3 linked regions of the Homo sapiens genome follow. The protein of the gene in region 2 purifies or fractionates together with the protein of the main gene of each other region. This does not show direct contact. Each region holds a gene or a part of one and is shown on either strand. Other genes may lie near its edges.

Region 1 (8,328 bases), on a different chromosome or scaffold from region 2:
GAAGGGAAATCTACACACACAGCTCTTGATGAATCTTTGCATACTGAAGTCTTTATGAGCAGATTGGCAGGGTCAAGTGGCCACTGTTTAGAGGGTGACAAGCCCTGTTCATTGGTTCTTTGCCAAGCAAAATTGCACATGAGAATTTTTCTAGTGAGCTCGTTCAAGTGAGTCCTTCTAAACAGCCTGATGTTCCCTGGTGTGAGCCCCCAGAACTGCAGCAGAGAGCATGTGCAACAAAGAGCCCCCTTGGAGGCTCAACCCCCAACTCCCCTGGTAAATTGCACCTCCCAACACAGGGGAGGAGGCAGTGGGGGAGAAAGATGGATCTTGTTTAAATCTTTTGCCTGAACTGAGTATGGATAGGCCTGCAAAATATTCTGAACCCTTTTCTGGCAGATTTTTGTCACGTGTTCCAGATGATTTCTTTTAATCAGGAATATTTTATCAAGCAAACACCTATGCATTCTCTGTTTCTGCTCTCAGTTGTACAGTGATTGGAGACTAGTGTTCTGGTTTCTATGCAAGATAAAGTTTAAGGCCTACACCCAAGGAAATATGAAGCAATGCTTATTAGCAGAAGTGTGCAATGTGAAGTGCGCAGAAAGGTCCACAGGCCTTGGCAAGGGAGAAGGAAGCTCTCATTCCTGAAGCTGAGCCTGGAAGACCCAGCTAAAGGGGGGCTGACCAGACACACATTTGCAGAAAAGGAGGTGTGTTACGGGCTGACTTGTGTCCCTCCAAAATTCCTATGCTGAAGTCCTAATTCCTAGTACCTTAGAATGTGGCTGTATTTGGAGATAGGAACTTTAATAAGGTAACTAAGCAAAAATGAAGTAATTGGGATGAGCCTTAATCCAGTACGACTCCGGTATCTTTCTAAAAACAAAGAATTAGGGCCAGGCGTGGTGCCTCACACACTCTGGGAGGCCAAAGTGGGCAGATCACTTGAGGCCAGGAGTTCGAGACCAGCCTGGCCAACATGGTGAAACCCCGTCTCTACTAAAAATACAAAAATTAGCCGGGTGTGGTGGCGCTCGCCTGTAGTCCCAGCTACCAGGGAGGCTGAGGCAAGAAAAATGCTTGAACCTGGGAGACAGCGGTTGCAGGGAGCCGAGATCTCACCACTGCACTCCAACCTGGGCAACAGAGCGAGACTCCATCTCAAAATAAATAAATAAATAAATAAATAAATAAATAAATAAATAATAAAAACAGGAAATTAGGACACAGGAACACACAGTGAAGACCACGAGAACACAGAGGGAGAAGCTGGCCGCTACAAGCCCGAGAGAGGCCTCGGAAGAAACCAATCTTGCTGACACCTTCATCTTGGACTTCCAGCCTCCAGAATGGTGAGGAAATAAATTTCTGTCGTTTTGGCCATCCAGTTGGTGGTTCTTTGTTACGGCAGCCCTAGCAAACTAAGGCAGGGTGCAACTGAAAACCTACTTAGGGTGATATCCCTGCAAGAGCCTGCCCTCTGAGCTCTCCACGCACAGAATGAAACCTTATTGGTACCATTCCTCAATGTAGCTGGGATATTTTTCTGGGGCTTTGGCATACCTTTTCTTGCTATTGTGTCATCCAACAATGACTAGACATTCTTCTTTAAACTGATCTTGATAATTTGTCTTCACCTACTGAACATGTGTAGAAATTTGTCTAAGCCTTCTGTTAGTTACTTATCCAAGCTACTCCTATTTCTCCCTTTAAAGTTCACCATGTAAGTCCCTTTCTTTAATCTCTGAATTTAAATTGCTAATGCTCTACTTGTCTAGCTGTTCTTTATAAAGCAGCATTTGGGGGTGTTTATCTTTTCAACTTAGAAAGAAAAGTGAAGGGATTGATTGTGGAATTCTTGTTTTCTGTTCCTCTCTGAGCTCTGCTGAGAGTGCGTACAAACTAGCTTAGGGGCAGCAAATACATAGGGGCTTTATATTTGGAGGGGCTCCATATAGGGGTATGGAAATATTCTTTGTGGTCCAGAATATATTTCAGATCATAATTCATTGCCAGACTGATGTCCTTAAGTGAACACAAAAGACAAAGAGGACCAGGGAAGAAAAATAATTCAATGGATAAAGTAAATAACTCAATGGGTTAGTATCTCCATGGAGACCATAAAATGCATCATCTCTATGGAGACTCTCATAATCTCCTTCTGGACTTACGGTAGTGTATAACCTGTTGTAATCATACATTGGGGGTGGAGGGAAAGTGACAAGAGGAAGAGGGTGAGAGGATGATCCTTTTCTTTCCTTGGTGGAAATGATAGCTATTGCCACTCTAAGTTTAATCAATTATGGTATTGTATTCATCCAAAGTTAGGATTCTGGGAGACCAGGTCCCTAGGATGGGTTAAGAGGCACCTGAGGATCTAATGTTTATATGCCCAGTACTGAACTGGGTATCTGACATGTATTAATAGTTGGTATTCAAAAAAGGTGTGAATGAATGAACATAATAGGCAATTGCACCGGATCTGATCCCGGGCTCAGGCCCTGTGCATCATCTCTGTTGTGCAAAAACAAATAAGGTGGAGACCTACTTCTGCCATGGGGAATACTCGGTACTACCTGCATAGGGCCAAGGAGAACCAGTAACTCCCATGTTGCTTCCTTCCCTTCTTTCGATAAGAATGGTGCTCAACAGTATGAACATTGTCAAAGGATGAAACAATGGTCAGTGTGGAGAGAAGATAAACAGGGTTCGGGGCAACAGACCAGCTAATGGATGCAAGTCACTGTGTCCAGAGAAGTTACATCCTGCCGGAATCTCCCTGTTTTGAGCCTCACTAGCCTCAGGACACAAACTAGGATTCCGGTTATTTTTTTATACCCAGGGTACTATGGGCCTTTGTCCCCCATCTGCTGTGACTTATTTGCTGGCAATTAGCCCACTGCAAAGTGATTTCTGAGCATTTACCATGGTAATGTCTCAGATCAGCATCCAGACATTTCCATCCATTCATCTAGTTTCTTGCTCTTTATCTTGGTGCCAGGTTATTGCCCTGGCTCTGCTGACCCTAGAAGAATATTTTTACTGTCCCTTTTCTATGCTTAGACATGTTTAGATCCACAAATATTTACCATTGTGTTATAGTTGCCTCCAGTATTGAGTTCAGTCACATGCTGTTCAGGTTTGTGGTCCAGGTGCAATACGTCATACCATATAGCCTAGGTGTGTAGTAGGCTATGCCATCTAGGTTTCTGGAAGTACACTCTATGATGCTCACGTGACAAAATCAACTAAGAACACATTTCTCAGAATGTATACCCATTGTTAAGCAATACATGACTGTGTGTCTGTAGGCCATATATATTAATATATATATAGTCATTTGAGATCAGTCTATATACAGTGTTTTGTACCCTGTATTTTCTTTAATAATATATAATGAATACATTTTCCCCATTACTAGGTACTGAAAGACATAATTTTAAATGACTACATAGTACTCGTATGAAAATGCTATTATTTACTTAACCTCTGTGAGACTTTTTGGCTGTTCCGTTTCCCCAGGATTCTAAACATCACTGTGTCTTCTTACATGCATTCTTCCACACTTCTTGGTTGTTGCCTTAGGATATGTTACTTTAGGTAGAATTCCTGGGCTGCGCTGAAGAATAGAAACATTTTAAAGATTCACATTCTTGCTTGTTTTGCTGTTCGCCTCTTTAGGTACCATATTTTTTAGGTGTACAAAATTTATACACCTGATTTTAAGTTCCTGGGTATCAGGGTTCATACTTCTCTTAATTTTGTATTTCCTTGCAGTCCTACTTACGGGTGGCAGGGCTCCTCAAGGGATGGGTGTACCAATGACAACCATGAAAGTATTCTAAGGTATTCCCTAGGACTCCGAGAAAAAACATGCATCTTTCCAAAGGGAAAGAAGGGATTAGATGTTAGCATCCTACTCCATGTCAGATCCAGAGCACCCGGGGGAACTGAAGTTCGTGGATGGAATACAATGACACCTCAGAAAAGAAATACTCCTTTGGTGGAGGCCTTTAAACTTTTGGGGGCTCATTTTGTCTGCCTAACTCGCCCAGCCAGGGCGCAAAATGGCCACTTAGGAGCATGAGTGAGGTGCCAGCGTCCCTACAATCTAAGGAGCAGGGAGTCATCACTGGGGTGGCTGCCGCTCTACCTGTTTGCGACTGTAATAAAACACCTTCTGGAGGCCGAGGGACCCGCTTCATCCTGACTTTTCCCCTCAGTAGCTAGAGAGAAGGCGGCTGAAAAGAGGAGACAGAACTGGTGCTGAGTGGGCCTGGAGCTTCCGAGGCAAGGGAAAGAGGGAGAGGGCTGCAGTTCAAAGTCCAGACGCGCTTTCCTTCCATTCTCTTCCCTTCCTCCCTGCCCTCTGCGCCCCATTTTCCCCTTATCGTGGGTGGGGGCTTCTGATTTGCTGCGGATCCCAGAGATGGTGGGGTTCAGCCTCCGCACTGCTTAGCTAAGTTCCCAGCCCAGCAGTCCCAGCCGGGCTGTTTTCGGTAACCAAAGCACTAGGAATTAACCTCTCTCTCGGCCTCTTCCCTTTCGGTTTCCTTCTTGGGTTGGCTGGAAACTTCACCCAGACACCGAAGCAGCTCTGCCCGGCCTTTTGGCACAGGCCACCGGCCGAGGCCCCACGGGGCGCTCTCCTTCCCCAGGTGCCCCCGACTCCGATCCTGCCCTCAGGGGCTCGCCCGGGACGCGTTTTCCCAGAGGCCGCCGGGGCGGGGTGGGCTGGCTGGCGGGAAGAGGGGGCCGCGGCCCAGGCTCGCCCCGGCGCCGGCCCGGTGGGCACGCGGCCAGCCTCCGGCCCCGACTCGGTCCCTCCCGGCGCCCGCCCCAGCCGAGGCCCCCTCCCGGCCCCGCCGCCCGCCCGCGGGGGCGTGGGAGCGCCGCAGGAGCAGCTGGGACCCGGGCCGGGCCGACAGGCGGCGGCTGCGGCCTAGGGCTCCCGCGCGGCCACCGGCCTCTCCCCTCCCCCTCCCGGAAGCGCGGGGCGGGGTCCCCGGCCGGGCCGTGGGGGCGGGCGCGGGGGCCGGGCCGGGGCGGGACGCGCTCGGCGCTCGCGGGCTCGGCGGGCTGTGCGCGCCCACTCCGGCTCCAGCGGCCAGCGCGCGCGGGCCCAGGCCGCCCGGCTCCAGCCCAGCAGTAGCGGCAGCAGCGGCGGCGGCGGCAGTGCGCGCGAGGCCCTGCGCCCCCAGCAGCTCCTCCCTGGCGCCGTGCATGGAGACGCGGCCCGCCACCCGCCGCTGAGCCCCCGCCGCCCGGCCGGGACCCGCCAGGGCTGGGGTGGCCTCGGGCTCCGGCCGGCCCCGCCGCCCGAGGGCTGCGCGCGGCCCGCGGGCCTCGCCGCCCCGCGCGGATCGTCGCGGCCCGGCCGTCCCGTCCCAGGAAGTGGCCGTCCTGAGCGCCATGGCTCACTCCCCGGTGCAGTCGGGCCTGCCCGGCATGCAGGTAGGCGGGCGCGGGCCGCGGGGCCGGGATGCGCGACCGGGGCGGAAGCAGCAACTTGGCGGTATCCACACGGCGTCCCCCTACGCTCAGCCGGCCGGGGTCGCGCCGGAGCCTGGCTCCCCGCGCGCCCGGCTCGGCCGGGGGTCCGAGTCCGAGTCCCTGGGCGTCCCTGCCGGCTCCGGCGGCCGAGGTCTCCGGCGTGTGCGTGCAGGAGCCGTAGGAACCGCGGCCTGGGTCCGGATGTGGGGGTGCGGGCGCCTAGTCCTCCGCGCTCCCCTCGCCCCAACACTCTTCCGGAGCTGCAGGCCCTGGGTGGCCCTGTCCCCGGGAGAAGTGAGGTGGAGTGATGCCCTTGGAGGCCCCCGCCGGGTCCCGGGGCCCTGCGTGGTGGCCGGGTTGGCGGAGGGCCCCAGGACGCGTCCCCCAGGCTCGTCCCCCACCCCCGGGCAGGCGGGCGGGAGACCTGGGCAGGGCGGGGACGGGGAGCGCGCCTGGACTCGTCCGGGCCCGAGCGGAGTAGGCAGGGTGGAGTGGAGGAAGGTAACCGCGAGTTCCACTTGCAGTGGCTTTGCCCGGAGCCCCCGTGCACCTGCGGACCGGGGGAAAGTGCGAGTTGCAAACCTTCTGGAAGGAGGAATCCCTCGGACAGCCGCGCACCAGGGTCCCGGGCCCGGCCCCGGGACCCTGGACTTTCACTTTGAGACTTGGTTGCATTTACAGGAATTCTTCGCCCAGTAAACCTCTCTTTCGGTACTTGGTGACACCTTGGCCTACCAGTGACTTTTTGGGGAGTGGGAGAGGAGTTGAATTTCAAATTTACATGTATAAGTTAAAGGTTTTTTGTTGTTGTTGTTTTCGTTGTCGTTGCTTTTAGCCCTTTGAAAAACAAAGCTACCGTCCTTGGCTAACTCTTGTAAACTTTGTAGGCGCAGAAATGGTGGCAAAATGCTTAGGATGGAAATCTTAGGATGCAGTTAGGATATGTCATGAAAGTTTGCTCTGCCAGTTTAGCTGAGTGAACGTTAAGTGTTTGAAGAAAACCAAAAGCATCCAAGTAGATTACTGGTTGATTTACAGGTACCAACAGGCTCCTTCCCTGTGTCTTGAGGGCTGAGAAGCACAGAGCCCAGACCTGGGACTGCCTCTGGGGTCTGCTCGCCTCTTCCAGTGAGATCATCCCTCTCCCTTCTTTTTTTGAAACCGTAAAAAGAAAACTGGATTTCACTGTTCAGGTTTGAATTCTGGAAAAATAGGAACTCAAAGTTACCACTTTAATGGCAGCTAGAATTTTAGTCCAAGTGTGTGTGTGTGTATATGTGTGTGTGTGTGTGTGTGTGTATATATAAGCAGTATATATATGTGTGTATATATGTTTAAGCAGTAAATAAATATACATTTAAGCAGCAACAGTTAAGTTATTATCTTAAGAGTGACTGGGAAGATGCTTGAAGAATATTCTTTTGTCGACTCTCATTTAAGGAGCGTTGAATTTAGCATGCATTCAAAACCTAAACTTCTGCTGACTGCTGGGTAACAATCAGATGTGGTTTCTTGGTATTTTCTAAAGCCGCTTTGGTATGAATTTAGAGGTGTGTAGGTCAGAGTGAACTGGGTGAAAAAAGTAATTTCTTACTAGTCGAGCAAGAAAGGACTCTTGTAATGATTTAAAAAAAAAGTTTTATCAATATTTCCTTTAGGTTGATATTTATACCGTGTTCATCAGGTTGGAATCTAGCACAAATGCCTCACTTACTAGGTTAATTGGCCTTTGTGGATAGCGAATCAGTTTGAAAAGGTACTAAAGCCCCTTTGGCTGGTGCCGTGAAGTCAGTATCAGATGGTTACCAGGTGATATCTAGTATCTCACCTTTTCATTTTTATCCTCACTTTTTTTTTTGAGTGGGTCAGAATTCTTAAACCTTGGGAAAAGAAGATACATTTCCTTAATAACTTTGCCTCTCAACTATTATGTATCTGTTAGGTTGTGTTACATGGGAACTGTTTTTATTTTGTTTTCTCAGTATGAAAGATCTTAAGTGTTTCTCAGTGGAAAAGATGATCAGATTTTCAGCTGTTACAGTTTTACAGTTTTAGAGGTAGGTAAGTTGGCTTCTGCCAGTCATTCCTGTACCTAAGTACATCTACAGACTGTATGGTAACAGTGTATCATTTGGGGAAGAACATTCTTTTCTCCTCCCCCACCCCACAAAAGAAAAACAACAGCACATTTATTTTCTACTTCAAATTAGCAGTTGCTACTGCCCTGGGAGGCTTCCCTAAGAGTTGTTGCTGAAGATTCAATTAAAAACACACCTGCTTTCGACTGTTGTCTGCTAAATGGGAGGAGAGAAGTCCGTATCTCTTCTATGGCTTGCTCTGATAGGCCTCATAGCCCTCCCTTTTTCTTGTCTCCTGACCAGGGCTTATAAGGAGTTGGCTTAGAAAGACAGCAGAGTCTGTAATCTCAGCAGTTTGAGAGGCCGAAGTGGGCGGATCATGAGGTCAGGAGATCGAGACCATCCTGGCTAACATGGTGAAACCCTGTTTCTACTAAAAATCCAAAAAATTAGCTGGGCGTGGTGGCACACGCCTGTAATCCCAGCTACTCGGGAGGCTGAGGCAGGAGAATCACTTGAACCCGGGAGGCGGAGGTTGCGTTGAGCTGAGATTGTGCCGTTGCACCCCAGCCTGGGCGACAGAGGCAGACTCCGTCTCAAAAAAAAAAATAAAATAAAAAAATAAAGCAGAGTGAATTCAGGTGGCCTAGGCAAGGATGCTTGAAAAATAACAACCATGTTAGTATAAACACCATTTTTCAATGTTTTGCAAATCATTTTTATGCCTCTTGATTCTTACCGGTACCGTTTGAGA
Region 2 (7,453 bases):
AAGTTAAGAACCAGGAGTGTTATAATGAATATGTTACTAAGTGTCTCATGAGAATGCCTTGAAAATAAATAAGTGCAATTTTAAAATAAGATTCTCATTTTCTTAATGGAAAATCTTTTTGCATTTCTTTTGTACATGTTCTATTAAGATATTCACATACCATAAAATTTACTTTTTTGAAGGGTACAGTTCATTGGATTTTAGTACACATTTGCAGGTTATGCAGTATAACCACTACCTGATTCCAGAACATTTTCATCACCACAAAACCTTACATCCATCAGTGGTCTCTCTCTAGTTTCCCCTTTCCTCAGTCTCTGGCAACCACTAATATTTCTATCTCTTTGAATTTGCCTATTCTGGACATTTCATATAAATGGAATGATAAAATATGCGGCTTTTTGTGATTGGCTTCTTAACATAATGTTTTTAAGGTTCATCTATGTTATAGCATGTATCAGTACTTCATTCCTGTTTATTGCCAAATAATATTGCATTGTAAGGATACAGCACATTGTGCTTATCCATTCATCAGCTGATAGGCATTTGGATTATTTTACTTTTTTGGCTGGTAAGAATATGCTGCTATGAATATTTGTGTACAAGTTTCTGTGTGGACATATGTTTTCAGTTTTCTTGGGTATATATGTAGAAGTAGAATGGATGGGTCATATAATAACTCTGTTAAAATTTTTTGAGGATCTGCCACATTGTTTCCCAAAGCAGCTATGCCAAGCTTGTCCGACCTGTGACTTGCTGGCTGCATATGGCCCAGGATGGCTTTGATTGCGGCCCAGCACAAATTCACAAACTTTCTTAAAACATTATGAGATTTTTTTTTTTTAAAAAAAAGCTCATCAGCTATCGTTAGCATTAGTGTATTTTATGTGCAGCGTGATAATTCTTCTTCCGATGTGCCCAGGGAAGCCAAAAGATTGGACACCCCTGAACTACATCATTTTACATTCCATCAACAATGTATGGAAGGTTGCAGTTTCTTCACATCCTCTCCAACAATTGTTATTGTCTTTTTCATTACAGTCATCCTCGTGGGATATATTGAATTGCATTCTCCTAATGACTAGTTAGGTTAATTAAGTATCTTTTCATGTGCTTATTGGCCATTTGTATATCTTCTTTAGATAAATGTTTATTCAAATCCTTTGCCACTTTTAAAAATGGGGTTATTTTCATTTTATTGTTGAGTTGTAAGTGTTCTTTATATATTCTGGATACTAAGCTCTTATCAGATTTTTTATATGTATATTTCAGATATATTTATATTTATATATCATATATATATATATATATATATTTGCAGGTATTTTCATCCCACATGTTTTTCTCCCCCATTAGTATCAGGAAGAAATTCAAGAACTTAATGAAGTCGCGAGACATCGGCCACGGTCCACGTTAGTTATGGGAATCCAGCAAGAAAACAGACAAATCAGAGAGTTGCAACAAGAAAACAAAGGTAAGATACGTTACTTTTTGACATTAATCCCATTTCTAGTCTATATTCCTAAATCGTATTTATTGCTCTTTATCCTGTCCCACATATGAACATCTGCCTGGTTGACATCCTCTTAGATTCTCACCCTTAATATCCAGTTAGCACTGCTGTTGTTAGCTATGAAATAACCCAGCTTCATTCTCTGCAGTCCCACTGCATTGGCCCCCAGATTAGATGCTCAGTCTCTTGCCTGAAATGTCCAAACTGATCTCCCTGATTCCAGTCTCTCTTCCCCCTTCCAATCTGTCTTCAACATAACCATCAGATTGATATTTCAAAAATCAGTCTGATCATGTAATTCTTTTGCCTAAGAACTTTCATTATATACTTATTACCTTTTACAGGGTCCCTAAAAATCATTTCCCAGCCTTTTTTTTAAATCTTCTTCCCACAGCTTTCTTCACTGTGAACTCTTTGCTCTTGCCAACACCAATCACTTCCTAAACACGTCATCTGTTTTCATGCCTACCTGCTTAGAAGGTCCATTCCTTCACTTTTCAACTGAGGGAACTCACACTGTACTTCTACAAAGCTTCCACCAGTTTCTTCCCATAGACATCTCTTAAATCTATTTGACTTAACACTCCACTCTGCCACCTACCACATGCTTGTTTTCTCTACTAGACTCTTGAGGTCTGTGGCCCTTAATATAGAGGGAGCCTTGGCCGATATTAATTGCTGTTTAGTACATCTTTGTTGAAATGATTCTCAAGAAACAAGCTTAAAATATTCAAAAAACTAATACGGGACTTCATTTGGTGTCTCTTATTGTTATATGGCTAGATTTTTGTGCATTGTGTTTTCTTTTTAAAATGTCCCGTTCATAAGTTGCTTAGTGGAAGAGAATATTTTGTGTACTTTTAACTCAAGTTGGAATAAAATACAATATTATTCTTGATAGAATTACGTACATCTCTGGAAGAACATCAGTCGGCCTTGGAACTTATAATGAGCAAGTACCGAGAACAAATGTTTAGATTGCTAATGGCTAGCAAAAAAGATGATCCGGGTATAATAATGAAGTTAAAAGAGCAGCACTCCAAGGTAATCCATTCTATAAATGTGACCTGAAATGGAAAAGAGAGACGATTGATTATTCTGTGTTCAGATTTTTTTTGAAAAAAATCACAGGTATCTAGTAATGGCATTTTAACATGATGTTGAATGTTTCATCTTTTTAATTGACATTTTCTCCTTTTTCTTATTTTTCCATTTCTTGTTATATATCATTTTCTGTTTGATTTATAAACTCTCACTGTTTCTTAGAAACTTTAATTTGTACGTTGAAAAATAAATTTTATTTTGGATATAAAGGTAAGTCTGGTCTCTTCAACATTATTTTTGTAGGGCTATATACTTTTAAGAAATATTTCTTAAAGGGCTGGGCATGGTGGCTTACGCCTATAATCCCAGCACTTTGGGAGGCCAAGGCAGGAGGATCACTTGAGGCCAGAAGTTCAAGACCAGCCTGGGCAACATAGCATGACTCCATCTCTTCAAAAAGTAAAAAAATTAGCCGGGTGTGGTAGCACATGCCTGCAGTCCTAGCTTCTCAGGAGGCTGAGGTGGATAGACCACTTCAGCTCAGGAGTTTGAGGTTACATTGAGCTACGATCATGCCATTGCACTCCCATCTAGACAACCGAGTGAGACCCTGTCTCTTAAAAAACAGAAATTTTTTTAAGAAACATTTTTTCTAATAAATTTGTGTATTGACTTCTCTTGCAAAAACAAAAAATAATGGAAACCTTTTTTAAAATCTGAAAGCAGTTTAATGTAGATTTTTCTTAAGACTGTTTTCTGAATAAGGCTAATTCATCCAGACTATAAATGATCTTGTTTATTATAATGGAAAAAACATGGGGTTCAGGAGAAGAACCAACATAGTAAAATTTTGCTCCCTTGCCCCAGTATTGTATACCAGTTGACATCATTTTTTAGAAACAAAGCTGAAGTAGTTAGAAATTAGTGTTTTACCTGCTGTTCATCCCTTTGTCATCCCTGTGTCTATTCCCTTTGGTATGTCCCCATATTTTATGGCATATTTTATGGCAACTGCTATGAAGACAAGTAGAATAATCCTTTCTCACATATTTATTTTAAACTGAGTTTTAGTTGCTGATATGAAATAAAAATAATAAACTAGATTGTGGAAACTAGACTGTTACCTGTATTAGATAATGGTGAGCTGACTATTATTATTACCAATATTATTTAAGAAACAGTGATTATGAGCCTTCTTTTCCCCATTTGTTACAACAGAAATAGGAAAGGACATATTTTCATATTTATCTATTATTGAAACACATTTTAGATTCTTTAAAATACTTCTTCCATTTTGGTGCTTGTACGTGTTTTTAACTTATTAGTAATTAATTCTATTAGAATTAAATACCTATCAAATAGCTCTTTATATGCCTTTATTATATTAGAAAACCTAATGATAGGTACCTCTTGTGTCAACCAGTAAAATAATAAATTAAATTAAAAATTTGTGTTTAATGTTTTCTAATTATGCTATTCATCTCCTAATCAAATGGCAATCCAGGGATGTTTAAGTGGTGATCTTTTGAATACAAAATTTAACTATTGTTAATGAGACCATTCTAAAATCATTTAAATTTAAAGGTATAATAATAACTATAGTAACTAAGACTTTTTAAAGGCACTAAAAGGAGTTGACTTAATATTATTTGTAAGATAAATATAATCTTGAGAATTTCTAAAAGGTTTGTATGTTTTATAACCTAAAAATAAAATGTTAAAGATCTAAAGCGAAGAATACCATTACAAAAAAAGTGCTTAGAATAGGATAACTATAGCTTGCAGGTCCCATCTGGTAGCAACTATGACAGAAGCAAATGTTTCCTAAAATATATTAGATTTTACTATTCACCAGAGCTGGTTTATTAATTAGTAAGGTTAAACATTTCCTAAGATAGCTGTAAGCCATCCTTTTTTATTATGTAGATTGAATTCTTCATCTAAGTTCAGATGATCCTTGCCTCCCATAAAATGACTATTCAGTTATTTGTTATTAATTTTCACTAATACATATTAATGTTTGTGATTTTGATTTTTCCCAAAAAGGAGACACTTCGACTTAATTAAACAAACATTAATACTGGCACTGGGTTAGTTATGGGAAATAATAAGATGAATGTACAAGCTTGCAGTATAGTGGGAGATACAGACACAAACATAACAATCTACTATAAGGTAGGGCGTGATGAATCCCAAAGTAGATGAATTGTTACTGGAACGCTAGAGGGAACAATATTAACTGTCATAAGGAAAATCTGGAAAGGTAACAAGGAAGGGAAGAAAGTCTGTCTCAGTCCAGCCTTGAATTAATTATGGGCAGGTAGGTAAACAAGCAGAAGTGGGTGGGTGGGCAGAGAAACTTGTATAATAAAAGCACAAAAAGTATGGTATTGTAGGGTGTGTTTAGGTACTAGTGCTCTGATATGCCTAAACACAAAAGTAATTTTACAACACATTTAGAGCTAAGAAACAGAGTTACACATAACAGCATTTTGGATTGGAGTAAGAGATCCTTTTGAGACTGTTATAATACAGAACTTTGCCCTTAACTAGAAGTTTTTGAGCACATACTTAAAAAATCAGTAGAAAGTTTGAGAGCTCATTTTTACCCAAATACTAATTTTCATGTTATTTTTGAACAGATGCCTTTTTGGAAATCTTAAAAAAGCAAACATTTCAAACAGTTGGCTAACACGCATGAACTAACACTCATTCAGTTTTTAAATTACGGATGATATCCGTATTAACATTATAATGACTCTATACTACAGATTGACATGGTACATCGTAACAAGTCCGAAGGATTCTTCCTTGATGCATCTCGACACATCCTTGAAGCACCTCAACATGGACTGGAGAGAAGGCACTTGGAAGCAAATCAGAATGTACACTAAATAAACAGTCAACTTTTGGGGTGTGGATGGAAGGGGGGTCCATTTTAAAAGTGCTTTTACATTGAATTTCCCTCCCAGATTAGATCAGCAAATAAATGAAATTTATTAAAAGAATGTTGTGTCTTTAATAGCCATGCTGTTCAGTGTAGAAACTTTAAATCTCTCATTAATTTTCTGTGTATTGTATCATGTACAGCCTGTTAGATATTTGCAGGTTTTATAGGTTATTCAGTCCAACGCTTTATTTATTTGCTCTTGTTAGTTGTTGCTGTGAAACAGTCATTTCCTTTCTGGACATCAAAGATATTTTCTTGGCATTAATTTTAAACTGATTTCATAAGGTCAAAGTATTAAATGTTTTAATTCAGATTGTGGATAGTTTGTAGTCCTTTGATTTTGCAAATGAAATTAAAATGCCTTTGTTTAGATGTTAGGATTAAGTATAGTAGTGCTCTCTCCATTGTGTCTTAATTTTTTTTTAACTCACTTGTGGCAGGTCTTTATTGAATAAAGGAGGAATAAACCTAGACAGGGAGTTAGAAATGAAAGACATTTCAAGACAGTTCAAGGGTTATGTTGGTGACACTTCTTGTCTTCCAGACAGTTTTGAAAGCACAGATCTTGCCTCTTGTGCTTGTTAAAAAATCTGTGATACTTCTCTGAAGATTTTATAATTAAATAAGTGAACCATTACCATGACCTTTTATAAAAGTGCTGCCCTATTTGAAGTATTGGGTTTTTTCTCATGATGAGCTTTGTTAGACTTGGTACTGAAAAAATCAGTAGTTTTTTTCCTTCTATTTTAAAGGCAAAGAAATGCTTGCTTCAGCTAGGCATGGTGGCTCATGCCTGTAATTGGGAGGCTGAGGTGGGTGGATCACCTGACGTCAGGAATTGGAGACCAGCCTGGCCAACATGGTGAAACCCCATCTCTACTAAAAATACAAAAAGTTAGCCAGGCGTGATAGCGGGTGCCTGTAATCCCAGCTGCTCGGGAGGCTAAAGCAAGAGAATTGTTTGAACCTGGGAGTGGGAGGTTGCAGTGAGCCGAGGTCGTGCCATTGCACTCCAGCCTGGCCAACAAGAGCGAGACTCTGTCTAAAAAAAAAGAAATGCTTGCTTTCTGTGTAGTTTTTTAACTTAGGTCAGTGCCATAGGACTGACCAAATCATAAATTGAGGATGCTGTTGGTATTCAAAGTTTTTACTCATTACCCTTACTCAGTTTGCAGCTGCAATGATCTGTACTTAACCTGCTTTTACATATTATGCTTCCTTGACAATGGGAGGAATTTTAATGGTTAACTTGCAGAATATGACAGATACTTGTCTTAATATCATTCTTCCTACCATAATCTAATTCAAAACTATCCAGTAGAACTTTCTGAAATGATTGGAATGTTTTTTATCTGTGCTGTCCAGTGTGGAAGCCAGTAGCCACATGTGGCTGTTGAGCACTTGCAGTGTCACTAATGCGTTTGAGGGACTGAATTGTTAATTTTTAAAAATGTATTGATTTTAATTAAGTTTAACATTGTTTTGGACAGCACAGATTAGCCTTTTAGAGTACCTTCTTGCTGAGTACTAGCAGTGTATAGGTTTCCCCATGAAAAGGACCTACATTTTTGTTGGTTAAGAGGTTATTAAATGTGCTTTGCCAAAGATACTACCTTGTCATTTCTTCCAGCTTATTAGTTCCGTGGGTTTCTTGGAGTACTGTTAAATCCTTTTTACAAATATATATATACACAACTACTGAAGAGACTGTTTATTTGGGGAGTTATTCACTTTTATATTTAAGTCTTAGGCTTAATATGATAAAATACCTCTCAGTTGCTGTGAATAATGGTCTATAGAAGCTGTTCATTGAGAAAATGATTATTCTCGAGTTTCTGTTGATTTTAAACCTTTTTTGTCTGTCTCTTTCACTAGACTGTAAGCTTCTTCAGATCAGGGGACATGTCTTGACAGTCTTTGTATTCCTGTTGTTTAGCATAGTACTG
Region 3 (7,453 bases), on a different chromosome or scaffold from region 2:
AACATCCTTAGAGAGGACCTAATTATTTCATATTGGTTGTGGCTCTTTAAAAATGGCAGAGCATTCCATGCCCTATACAGAGTACACAAGGAAATAATTTTCACATTGAATATAGATCTCTTACAGAATGAGGAAAAAAACACTTTACACAACACACTTTTCGATAACATGCAGTATTGAGGGAATAGTAAATCATCATCCTTCACAAAGAAGGTGCAGGTGCTCTAAAATAATCTTAGAGCTAATGATTTCAGAAAGAGGCTTCCAAATTTGAAATTTAAAATGCAAACTTAATTTCAAAGTTGGTTTTTCCAAATCTCTGATAAGTCCTAGGAATCCAGTGTGAGCAAGAAGAAAACTTTCTCCCTATTTTATGACTTGTACCTCCCACTATCTGTGATGAATGCCATGGGTCAAATGCCATAACAAATTTCCTCTTTTAGAGCCAGCAAAGTCTAGCCTGGTTGTAGCCAAGACTAAAGCAGGAAAAGGTCCTACCAAAGAGCTTGTCTAGAATTGATCCACCAAAAGATTTCCAAGGCCAACTGGGCACCCAACTGACCCCAGGGCAAGTTGATCATTTTATTGTGATTCAGGATCCCACCCTTGCACCATCTTTAGGCCCAAGAGCCCCCAGAAGAGCCCTGAACTGGTAACAGCGCCTGTATGGACAGGGTAGGCAGAGCACAGTTTATTGGAGCTGACCTCTATCTATTGATGCTTGTTGACAAGAACTTAGTCAGTGATTCTGGAGCAGCTCCTCCCAACAGATGGGCTGTGAAAACACCTCTCTCTCGAGCCAGAGCTCATATGAATAGTGGAAATCTTCAGGCAGATCCAACCTCTGCCCCAGTACGCTCTGCAAGCAGTTATCCACAGGTGAAAACTCAGAGTCCTGGGGTCTGTCATAGCGACGGCTGTTAAAAGCCTCAATGTTGGCCCTCAAGGTACATTCTTCTGCTTGGAAGTCCCATGGTCTGGCATCGATGTCTGTGTTGGAAAGAGAGGAAGAAGAAGACATACAATGCAAGACACTGCTCCTCTTATCACAGAGCATGGTCTATGGGATTCCAAAAATGGAACTGCTCAGAAATTCTTTTTTTTTTTTTTTTTGTAAAGAGCAATGTATGAAGTTAGTATACAGCATGCTGACACTTAGGTTTAAAAAATACACATATGCCCACATGCATAAGCTTGTATATGCAGAAATTATCTTTGGAAGGGTAGTCTAGAAACTGGTAATAGTGGTTACCTATGAGAAAGGAAATGAGGGCCCAGAGGGAGGTGGACTTCTTCTATTGTATTTCCTTTTTATTATTTCACTTTCTTATTAGCTTTATGTATTACTAGTTATATGTATTATGTTTCCCAAAAGGGTAATTAAATTCCTTTTATGCAGCTTTCCTTAGGGGATGAGTGTCCCATCTGAATGGAATAGCCAGCTTTCAAGGAATAGGAAGGGGCAAGAGGGGTATAACATGGAGAATCAGAATGGACCAATTACCGAAGATTTTCCTGATTCCCTGGAATCTCCTCCAGCACATGATAAATCTATATGTCAGCTTATTTTAAGATGATGAGGTGACGGCTTCAATGAAGGTAAAAACAGAAAACAGATAATCTGTTTCGCTTCTATTCACTTAGACACTTATTTCAGGGCTGAAGATACAAATCTCCCAGATCTCTCATGTTCTACATGCAAGGGTTTATCATAAGGAAGTGTAGTGTGAGTTTGGGCTCATAATGGCAGCAACAACAGATGTGCCATTTGCAGGATAAAACATTTTTGTGTTTTAAAAATTTACAAGAATTTAATAGATAATTGTGCTTTATGTCTTATAGCAGAAGTTGCATCCTGGCTTGTTATGTGCCTATCATATGTTTCCTTTAGTTCTCTAAACCCTTTTTTAGTGAAAAGACAGTCCCTCAGCACCACAAATTATGCAGTTGAGTTTCCCACATTTAGGGGAATAGCAGGGGTCAGCATATCTGGAGTAAAATGGATAAGACTTGTCCTGGGAAAACCATCTTCATGATCATGGTATTTTCCCTGCCAGGTAAGTAAGTAGAGTTATCTGAACTCTTTACTGCATCATCCTTTAAAATTCAAGCAGGTTACAAACACAGCAAAGACAAGTCATTACCAAAAATTCTCAAATACAATTATGGAAATAATGGTCAAATACAAAACAATAAAAAAGCTCTCCAAAATAAATTTTTCCAAACTCTGATCAATCTTACAAGTTCTGGTAGTTTAACCAAATATCTTGCCTTCTGATGTGAGGCAATGTACAGTTCCCAAGATTACCTAGGACATACTGCAGCCAAAAAGGTTTAAATTGAATTCATCAAACCTTTAGATTTAACTTCAAGTTTACAGGTAATACCATAGATAGACGAATAAAGTAGATAACACCACAAAGAAGAAAACAGACAAATCCAGAATGTGAGTATTTTGCAGGACAACTGGCCTAGTTCTTCAATTAGTTAGCATTAATGGTGGAGGTGGGGAGACTGCTTAGAGGCCAAGCACGGTGGCTTACACCTGTAATCCCAGCACTTTGGGAGGCCAGGGCAGGAGGATCCCTTGAGCCCAGGAGTTCAAGACCAGCCTGGGCAACACAGGGAGAGACTCCATCTCTACAAAAAAATTTGAAAAATTAGCCGGGTGTAGTGGTGGTATGCATCTGTAGTCCCAGCTACTTGGCAGCTGGGAGGATCACTTGAGCCCAGGAAGTCGAGGCTGCAGTGAGCCATTATCATGTCACTGCTTTCCAGCCTGGGTGACAGAGCGACCCTCTCAAAAAAACAAACAAACAAAAAACAGAAAACAAAAATAATTAACATATATATAACAACTGGATGCAACCTGTGGTCCTGGATTGGATTCTGACTTGGAAAAATAGCTATGAAGAACATTTTGGGACAACTCGAAAATTGTGAATATGAACTTTATTAGATGAAATGAAAATGTACTGACATGAAAAGGTAGAGATAATGTTAAAAGAGAAAATTACAAAATAGCATACATAACTTGCTTTCATTTTGATAAAATATGCATGTATATGCATAGAAAAAGATCTGGAGGAATATACAATAAGATGTTAATGGTGGCAATTTCTGCATAGTACAAATATGGCATAAATATAATATAGTAAAATGTTTGTTTACTTGTATTTTCTATCTTTTTTTCTAACTGCTTTGTAATAATAAAAAGTTGTTTTAATTTAAATCTTTTGGAGAAAGCTGTCATTTAAAAGAATGTTTTGGAAAGGCAATTAATTATCTCTCAATTTACTTGTTTTATAAAACGGATTTTCATAGTTTACATAGGACAAGGGTACATACTAGAATTTGAGGCATAACCTTAAAGTTTGGTGTATCAGCGCCTGACCTATAATCACATATTTTTTCATCTAAAATATGTAACAATTCATGCCAAAAGAGGAGTGATAAATATTTATTTAGTTTTGTCTAAACCCCAGGAAACTCCAGGAAGTCAAGAGCTTTGGGAAGACTCACCATTCCCGTAAGCCCAGTCATCGTTCATGCGGTGACGCACTTTCTGGTAAATGGCTGACATGGTTTTCATGTTGCTTTTCCTCCATTGGCGCCCCAGGTACTTGGTCTGTAACTTTAGTAGCTTTAGGACATAAAGTTGCAGCATGGCCTGTTTGACCTTGAGGGCCCGCTTTAAGATTGGTGCCGATTTAAACACTACCAGCATCTGTTCATTGAAAGAGGGGTGGGGTAAAGATCTAACGTTTCTTGGAATTTCCAGTTTACAGACAAATTAAACCAAACCTAGCTAGCCTCAGAAATTCCTGGGGAGCTTTCAGGAATCTATGGTCCAGGCTCTACTTAGATTTAATCTTCAAGAATATAGAGGGGGGCTGGGCAAGGTGGCTCATGTCTGTAATCCCAGCACTTTGGGAGGCCGAAGCCAGTGGATCACGTAAGGTCAGGAGTTTGAGACCACCCTGGCCAACATGATGAAACCCCATCTCTACTAAAAATACAAAAATTAGCCAGGCGTGGTGGCATGGGCCTGTAATCCCAGCTACTAAGGAGGCTGAGGCACATGAATTGCTTGAACCCAGGAGGCGGAGGTTGCAGTGAGCTGAGATCATGCCACTGCACTACAGCCTGAGTGACAGAGCAAGACTCCGTCTCAAAAAAAAAAAAAAAAAATATATATATATATATATATATAGAGAGAGAGAGAGAGAGAGAGAACTATTCCATTCATATTTTATTGTTCAAAGTTTTCAATATTCAAAGCATATGGTATAAAGTGAAAAGAAAATTTTGTCAGCCACACATATCATTTCCACTGTCACAGTATTTTTGTTTATTTTCTGGAGATAATTCTATGTATGCATATATTACTTTTATTTTTTTGTTTTGTTTTGTTTTTAAGATGGAGTCTTACTCTGTCGCCCAGGCTGGAGTGCAGTGGTGCAGTCTCGATTCACTGCAACCTCAACCTCCTGGGTTCAAGTGATTCTCCTGCCTCAGCCTCCCCTGAGTAGAGGCGCCCGCCACCACACCCAGCTAATTTTTAGTAGAGATGGGGTTTCATCATGTTGGTCAGGCTGGTCTCAAACTCCTGACCTCAAGTGATCCTCCCACCTTGGCCTTCCGAAGTGCTGGAATTACAGGTGTGGGCCACCACACCCAGCCTACTTTTGTTTTTTAACACAAATGGTAGCCAACTACATATCCTGCCACACTGTTCTATACCTGGTTTTTTTTATTGAATATATCTTGAAAACCATTCCATATCAGTACAGAACTGCCTCATTCTTTTACTTTTTTTAATAGAGATGGGGTCTTATCATGTTGCCCAGGCTGGTCTCAAACTCCTGGGCTCAGGCAATCCTTCTGCCTCAGCCTCCCAAAGTGCTGGGATTACAGGCATGCACCACTGAGCCCGGCTGCTCATTCTTTTTAATGATTGCATAATATTCTATTATAAGGACATACCATCATTTATTTAACCAGTTGGTCCTGCTTAATGAGCATTTAGCTTGTTTCCAGGCTTTCATTATTATTATTATTATTATTATTTTGAGACGGAGTCTCACTCCGTTGCCCACGCTGGAGTGCAGTGGCATGATCTCGGCTCACTGAAACCTCTGCCTCCCAGGTTCAAATGATTCTCCTGCCTCAGCCTCCCGAGTAGCTGGGACTATAGGTGCCTGCCACCTTTCCCAGCTAATTTTTGTATTTTTAGTAGAGATGGAGTTTCACCATGTTGGTCAGGCTGGTCTCGAACTCCTGACCTTGTTATCTGCCCGCCTCGGCTTCCCAAAGTGCTGGGATTACAGGCATGAGCTACGGAGCCCAGACAAGCTTTCATTATTATAAACAATGTTGCAATGATAAACCTTGCACTTGCATCATTTGGGAATGTATGTAATCCAAACAACATTGCTAGCTTCCCTGCTAGAGTTGCCCTGAGGGAGGGTTTGAGATTCAGCCCCCTGAAAAGAAATGGACTGATAAGTAATCATCTAATATAGAATAAGTGCCCAGAATTATGAGGTGCTAAATCTTATGTAGCATTCAGTGTCTATATACGGAGATCACAAACCAGGTAGCACACAAATATTTACTAGTGATCTTTTAAAAATTCAGTCAGATGGACAACTCCATGATGTAAAAAACCACACTCACCATGGTCCGGGAATGTTTCCATTTGGTCAGTTTATTGAGCAGCCTCAGGAGGTTGATGCAGGAAAAGAGGTTCCTCCAGCAGAACTGGCTGTTGTCTCCAGCTTCCTATAGTAGGGAACATCCATCATTATCTTAATACCTACAAGGCTTTAATTCCCACAGAAGCCTGGAAGTCAATGTTGGTCAGTTTAGGTGAGGCCTTCCTGTATGAAATAATACCTCCTCACCTTCCTGTTTCTTAACACACTGAAGTCTCCAAAGCCCATGGTTTAAAAACCCCCTCAGCTGCCAATCCTGGAAGACTCTACCTACAGCATGTGTTGGTTAGAAAGATGATACATGAGCACAGGAACCTGATTCAGGCAAGTTTTCTTGTGTAGCTTATTGCTCTAGGATCAGAAAAGAGATGAGAGAATTTTACCCCCATATACAGGTACTTTGCGCTTATATAAACTATGTTTGTAATTGTTAGGATTAGGTCTAATTCTGGTAGATTTTAAACTATGTTGGATGGATCTGATATCAACTATGGTTGAATTTTTTTTTATCTTATCAACCTTCACCCTCCTTTATCAAACCATATTACAGTTAGATGCTTAATTCTTCAGCATGGAAGGAAAAATGGCAGATGGTTTCTTCTAATCAGATATTTTTCTTATATATTTCTTGATAGTTTGTGAACACCTAACCAGAGACAACAGATGGATGTCAGATTAAAAGCAGGTATCTACTCATAGAAAGATTTTTCAGAAATAAAAATGTGAGTCCTTATGTGAATTTGGGGCTTGCAAATACATACTGGTGTCAGAAGCTATATAACTCAATGAGCACACGTGACAGCCAAACTAACATCTTGGAAATTCCTCACATCTACAATGTGATAGGAGAATGTAGGAGTAGATGACATGTAGAAGTGAGCTGCTGTCTGGTGAATGGAAAATTACCTCCTCCTCCCTCAAATTAATTTGAAGCAAGACAGGCATATATCTAATGTGGAATGAACATCCAAAGTTTTTGAGGGTATTAGGCTTTCCTAATACCTAATACCAAGAGCCAAAAAGTTTCAGGGAAATTTCTTATTTAGAAATATTATTTATAGGTCGGTTGTGGTAGCTCACACTGGTAATCCTAGCACTTTGGGAGGCCGAGGCAGGCAGATGACCTGAGTTCAGGAGTTCGAGACCAGCTTGGCCAACATGGTGAAACTCCATTTCTACTAAAAAAATTAAAAAATTAGCTGGGCATGGTGGCAGGAGCCTGTAATCCCAGCTACTTGGGAGGCTGAGGCAGGAGAATCACTTGAACCCAGGAGGCAGAGGTTGCAGTGAGCCAAGACCACGCCATTGAACTCTAGCCTGGGCAACAAGAGAGAAACTCCATCTCAAAAAAAAAAAAAAAGAAACATTATTTATAAATAATATTCTCCATCATACAGTAAATGTTCAATATTGTCCCAGGAGAACCATCTGTCTGCTTCTAAGGAAAACTTCTATGGGACTTTCTACTGTAGTGCATCAGGTAGTCTGGCTTGCCCCAAATAGACCAAGTTCTACAGACGTTATATCTTGTGTGGTTAATAGAGACAGGGAGACTTTTACATTTTTTTTTTTTTTTTGAGACAGAGTTTTGCTTTTGTTGCCCAGACTTGAGTGCAGTGGGGTGATCTTGGCTCACTGCAACCTCTGCCTCCCAGGTTCAAGCAATTCTCCTGCCTCAGTCTCCTGAGTAGCTGGGATTATAGGAATGCACCGCCACGCCTAGCTAATTTTGTATT

Evidence for each region.
Region 1: the proteins of FGFR1OP2 (region 2) and STK24 purify together in Homo sapiens (affinity purification with mass spectrometry; 4 studies listed by BioGRID and IntAct, with this or other methods). This does not show direct contact.
Region 3: the proteins of FGFR1OP2 (region 2) and STRIP2 purify together in Homo sapiens (affinity purification with mass spectrometry; 2 studies listed by BioGRID and IntAct, with this or other methods). This does not show direct contact.

The regions. Positions count from the first base shown.
Region 1 is NC_000013.11:98,573,874-98,582,201, reverse strand, and holds the start of STK24 (serine/threonine-protein kinase 24 isoform b precursor), read left to right. Parts: upstream 1-5,094; 5' UTR 5,095-5,415; coding exon 5,416-5,457; intron 5,458-8,328. UniProt on the Homo sapiens protein: Serine/threonine-protein kinase that acts on both serine and threonine residues and promotes apoptosis in response to stress stimuli and caspase activation.
Region 2 is NC_000012.12:26,955,187-26,962,639, forward strand, and holds part of FGFR1OP2 (FGFR1 oncogene partner 2), read left to right. Parts: intron 1-1,356; coding exon 1,357-1,474; intron 1,475-2,414; coding exon 2,415-2,557; intron 2,558-5,328; coding exon 5,329-5,442; coding exon of another isoform or gene 5,443-5,451; exon of another isoform or gene 5,452-5,565; intron 5,566-7,453. UniProt on the Homo sapiens protein: May be involved in wound healing pathway.
Region 3 is NC_000007.14:129,479,116-129,486,568, reverse strand, and holds part of STRIP2 (striatin-interacting protein 2), read right to left. Parts: intron 6,069-7,453; coding exon of another isoform or gene 5,988-6,068; exon of another isoform or gene 5,785-5,987; coding exon 5,680-5,784; intron 3,728-5,679; coding exon 3,523-3,727; coding exon of another isoform or gene 3,500-3,522; exon of another isoform or gene 2,938-3,499; intron 991-2,937; coding exon 740-990; 3' UTR 1-739. UniProt on the Homo sapiens protein: Plays a role in the regulation of cell morphology and cytoskeletal organization. Required in the control of cell shape. Calmodulin-binding scaffolding protein which is the center of the striatin-interacting phosphatase and kinase (STRIPAK) complexes.